2 separate regions of the Homo sapiens genome follow, and region 2 is linked to region 1. Evidence: fine-mapped expression QTL. Tissue or cell type: blood mononuclear cells. Region 1 holds a variant in brackets; the other region holds the start of a gene. All regions are shown on one strand. Distances are from middle to middle.

The links. PIP is the estimated chance that this variant, and not a neighbour inherited with it, causes the effect.
Region 2: it holds the start of GRIN3A, and the variant in region 1 is the best candidate, but not a certain one, in a credible set for the expression of GRIN3A in blood mononuclear cells (TOPMed, PIP 0.68).

Annotation. Positions count from the first base shown.
Region 1 is chr9:101,589,226-101,591,725 of GRCh38, reverse strand. All of the region lies in intron 6 of GRIN3A (glutamate ionotropic receptor NMDA type subunit 3A), which reads left to right. It overlaps PPP3R2 (protein phosphatase 3 regulatory subunit B, beta), which reads left to right. Exons shown (of 1, transcript NM_147180.4): 1 at 1-122. Among named protein-coding and RNA genes, the nearest start is that of PPP3R2, 4.5 kb to the left of the region's middle. The variant T/C (reference allele first, on the strand shown) is at 1,434.
Region 2 is chr9:101,737,451-101,740,124 of GRCh38, reverse strand. It overlaps GRIN3A (glutamate ionotropic receptor NMDA type subunit 3A), which reads left to right and starts at 1,478. Exons shown (of 9, transcript NM_133445.3): 1 at 1,478-2,674. The coding sequence starts at 2,146. RefSeq lists enhancers at 1,121-1,644, 1,645-2,169.

The DNA.
Region 1 (2,500 bases):
TTATTCCCAAATCGGAATGCTTTGTTTTTCCTGTCAGTTAATTGCCAGTTGCCAACAAATCTAGTTCTATACAGTTTCTTGGGATGATGATAATAAACATTTATTGAGCAATTGTCCCATAACTTTTGATATAACCTTTGTTATACATATCATTTAATCATCATAACAACACTGTGAGTCTGGTGCCATTATTTCAGCATTACAGATGATGCCATGTAGAGATCTAGCATCTTCTCCAAAGTCGCCCAGCTGGTAAGTGGCAAAGCATGGATTTGAACCAGGCTTTCTGACCCCAAATCCTGAGCTTTATTTCTACCTCTCTGCATTTATCTTATTTTTATAGCTCCTATATCTACCTGTTACAAATTATTTATTATAGTCTTAACCATGTCATCAAATCAAGCCTCAGTTTTCATAAATGATGAAACTGAAGCCCAAAGAGGTAAATTGCTTGTCAAAGAACAAGCAGCCTCCACCTCTTTGGTTCTATGCATTGCAATGAAACAGATATGTTAGACGAGACAGTTTTAAGCCATGTTCCACCTTTGGCTCATCTTGAGAAACAGGTGACAATATTTAGATTAAACCGATAACGCAAACCAATATGCTCTGAGGCTATAGAGATCAGTCACAATATGTTGTTATGAATCCTATGTTAATTGGATTATGTCTGCTCTGTACCATATGTTGCAATCCCCAGACCACTAGACACTCTTTTTGAAACAGAGAAAAAAATATGGCCTCAGCAAATTCAATTTAGCTTTGGTGTATATTCTCTCATGCTTTAGAAACATTCTCAAGGAAAAAATATCTTCCAGACATTTTTGTTAATTACAAATTCCTAAGCCACTGTCTGAGGAACAGTATGAATTTTTTAAATGAAGACAATTTTTTATTTAAAAAAAGTATAAATTCCATTCTCTACTTATAGTACTGACTCTTTCTTTCTGTTAAGAGATAGAGTAGGTAGTTAGTCTGCTATGGTGTTATATCTATTTTGAATACTTTGAACAGGAGGAGGCTCGGATGTTTTTAAAAAGAGTGTTGGCCGGGCGCGGTGGCTCATGCCTGTAATCCCCGCACTTTGGGAGGCCGAGGCGGGCAGATCACGAGGTCAGGAGATCGAGACCATCCTGGCCAACATGGTGAAACCCCATCTCTACTAAAAATACAAAAATTAGCTGGGCGTGGTGGCACGTGCCTGTAATCCCAGCTACTCGGAAGGCTGAGGCAGGAGAATTGCTTGAACCAGGGAGACAGAGGTTGCAGTGAGCTGAGATCACACCACTGCACTCCAGCCTGGGTGACAGAGCGAGATTCCATCTCAAAAAAATAAATAAATAAATAAATAAATAAATAAATAAATAAATAAATAAATAGAGTGTCATTATGGTAGAGGAACAAGGCCACCAGACTGAGAATCAGACCGGACT[T/C]CTCTGCTGCCGTGTCAACTACCGTACCTACCCCAGTAGCCAATGACTGTGAACTATAAATCATGAATCATCAGGAATTAGCTGATTCATAATGAAAAATTCTAACACTGAAGGGTCACCGTAGTAGCAGTAAAGCTGTGTAGATCAGAAGACAGTCTGACTACTCACAGGCTAACTCTGACCTACAAATGTTTGCTTTCGTTGTTACTGGTTTTACATGGTGTTTGTTCTCACAATGTTTTTTAAAAATTACCAATATTTTAAATAAAACCTTTAAAGATTTTAAATAAAAACCTAAATTACTACAAAGAAATGCAGGTCACTCTAATATGGAGGTAGCTTTTTATTGACTAAGGAGTCTCTGAAATATTGAGATGAAATTAAGAGTTTCAGTGAAGAAAAATTAACATAGTTACACTCTTTGGCACAGAAGTTCAAAATGGACTGAAGGGTTCACTATTTTTTAAAGATATAACACTGGACACAAAATATTTATCCCCATAATCAATATGTTCTAATGCCTGAAACAGTAGAAAAATGTACAATAATCAAAATAAGTATAGCTGTGTAAAACTTCAAACTTTTATATAATAAAATATAACAAAACAAAGAAAACATAAAAAGGGAGAAACATAACATGTTAGCAAAAGGGTTAGCAGTTTTTCAAAAAAAAGCTTCATTGTGTCTGATATGCATAAATAAATATGCAAAAAAGTCATTATATGATTCATTCAAAAGGAGATAGGTAAAACAAACATGGAAAAATAGGCTTGCTAATTCAATAAATACAAATTACAATATTTAAAACAGGAAAAATGAATAATTATAAAACAGTTGGCAAAAATAGAAGCCTTCTAGGCATTGCAGTATCTTTGGTGGCATTGGGAATGGCTTTCACCCTTTTTATGGGTCATTTTACACATCACAAGTCATCAGAACAGTTGTATCCTTTGACCAGGTAATCTCACTCATTGCAATGTATATCTCAAAGAAATAAAAATATTTTAAAATGCTATACATGGCCAGGTGCAGAGGCTCACGTCTTTAATCCCAGCACTTTGGGAGGC
Region 2 (2,674 bases), 150 kb before region 1:
AAGGACTAAAAGTACAAGGACTAAGCATGGTCATAACCTAGAAAGTTATACATTATATTCTTCAAAACACACACTCGAGTACAGACAAATATACCTCCTTACTACACAATTAGTAGATACCCAATCTTCCTGCAATGCAAGGACCTCAGACTTCTACACTTTTATTATTCAGATCTCAATCAGTGGAATCCTGTGGATCAAGGGGGAATTTCCAGCACACTAGAGGCAGCTTTTCTCCATTCATGGGATGTTCTCTCAGGCTTCAGGAGGGTTTCTTTCCCTCCTCATTCAGCCCACTACTATGATTTTCACTTTTTTTCTCATGGGAGACTTTTCTTCTCTAGCAACCCAGTCTTGCAAAAACGATGCCGAATGTCTGGTAAATTTGTTCTGAGATACCTTTAAAGATCTGGGCTGGGGAAAACAGCATTCACTTTGCAAGCTTCTTGGGATTTTTACTTAACTAGAGTCTCTTCTTCCCAGGATTTAAAACATGATGGAAACTTTAGCTCATGAATCAAAACAACCCTCCAGAGCTAAAAGCCAGCTGTATTTGCATAACAATTTAGCAGATCCAAACAGCAGGGCAAGGTCGGGTGAAATAAGTTGCCAAGGTCATGGTCATGAAGTAGTATTAGACTCAGAAAGGCTGATCCCCAGTGCTTGCTCCACCCCATGGATCTCTCCTACCCTCCTTCTAAACGATACTGTGGGATAAAATAAAATTAATCTACTGTATATGTGCAAACCACAGGCCTGCCCTTAACTCTTTCCTTACCTTCTAGTTTCAGATTATTCAAATCATGGAGGAAAAGATTAGATCACAACACGTTGACTTCACTGTATTACCATACAAATGAAATAACTTAGTACAAACTGTGATCTGGGGACTCTTGATCTAAACTGGGAACTGCTGTTGACTGCATTTTAAACTCTAAAAGTATTTTGAAACTCTTTAATTTCTTGAACTGAAAAAATTGCTTTGAATTCACTTTGTTTTAATTCTGAGAACCTAAAAACAGGGATTCTTTAAAAAAAAAATGCAAAGGCTCACATGCCAGAAAGAAAGAAGCTGAGGAGATAAAAATGTGTAAATAATTCTTACTTTAATACCCTTAGCTAGAAAAACCTTAAAAGCGACACATCCAGAAGCTCGTTAAGTCACAGCCTCTTTGAACCTATTTCAGTGAACCACCGAATTTCAGATCCCTCAGGTGCGACTCTGAATTCAGAATTCTCACCGGCTCATAGTCCTATTTTCCTTCTTAGGTTTTAGGGAATTTTGCAAACTATGACGCCCAGCCTTTGAGGGGAGAGGACTTTCCAGGGGCGCGGGATGTGCCACTCGGGAATCTCACCAACAGTGGGCGTTTAGCGCAGCCAAGCGACAGGCAGGCGCCAGGGCTCAGCAACAGGGAGGCGCCGGCTGAGGCGGGGAGAACTTTGGCGCTCGGAGCAGAGCCACCCTTTGCTGGCCAGTCGCGTTGCTCCTCCGAGGAAGCAAGCGGCGGTGGCGACTCGGTGGAAAAATAACGAAAGAAAGGCAGAGAGGAAGTAGCGAGAGAAGAGAGAAAATGAAGTCGGCGCTGGGGGAGCCTGCAGGAGGGTGGCCAACAGTGGAGGAAGGTGGATTTGGCTTCTTTTCCGCACCCCGGGCGTGAAAGCCCTCTCCAACGCGACCCCAGGAAATAAGTGGGTCTCGCCTGGGCAGAAAAGGAAAAGAATCCAGGCGAGAGCGCGTCGCTCCTCTGTCACTGCTGCCCCCGAGGAACTCCGGCTGCTTCTCATCCCGGCCGCCTCGCGGGGCCGGACGCAGTGCCCGAGGCGCCCTGCAGATGGGGCGGGCAGGGAACGGGCGCTCCAGCTGCGGGTGACAGGCGCCGGCCCGCCCGCCTGCCTGCTCAGCGCAGTGACCGGGCGGGCAGAGGATGCCAGGCGGAGGGACCTGGGAGCGGGATCTGAGACTGCCGGAGGCGCGCTACGCTCCAACTTGCATGGCCTAGAGACCGCTCCAGCTCCTGGGACCGCTTCACCGAGTGGAGTGAAGCTGCGCGCGGGACCTGGAGGCGGAGACCTCAGGCAGCGGCTGCAGAGGGGCGAGCCGGGCGCAGGAGGGGGCGCGCTTTCTCCCTGCGGGTCTCAGTAATGAGGAGACTGAGTTTGTGGTGGCTGCTGAGCAGGGTCTGTCTGCTGTTGCCGCCGCCCTGCGCACTGGTGCTGGCCGGGGTGCCCAGCTCCTCCTCGCACCCGCAGCCCTGCCAGATCCTCAAGCGCATCGGGCACGCGGTGAGGGTGGGCGCGGTGCACTTGCAGCCCTGGACCACCGCCCCCCGCGCGGCCAGCCGCGCTCCGGACGACAGCCGAGCAGGAGCCCAGAGGGATGAGCCGGAGCCAGGGACTAGGCGGTCCCCGGCGCCCTCGCCGGGCGCACGCTGGTTGGGGAGCACCCTGCATGGCCGGGGGCCGCCGGGCTCCCGTAAGCCCGGGGAGGGCGCCAGGGCGGAGGCCCTGTGGCCACGGGACGCCCTCCTATTTGCCGTGGACAACCTGAACCGCGTGGAAGGGCTGCTACCCTACAACCTGTCTTTGGAAGTAGTGATGGCCATCGAGGCAGGCCTGGGCGATCTGCCACTTTTGCCCTTCTCCTCCCCTAGTTCGCCATGGAGCAGTGACC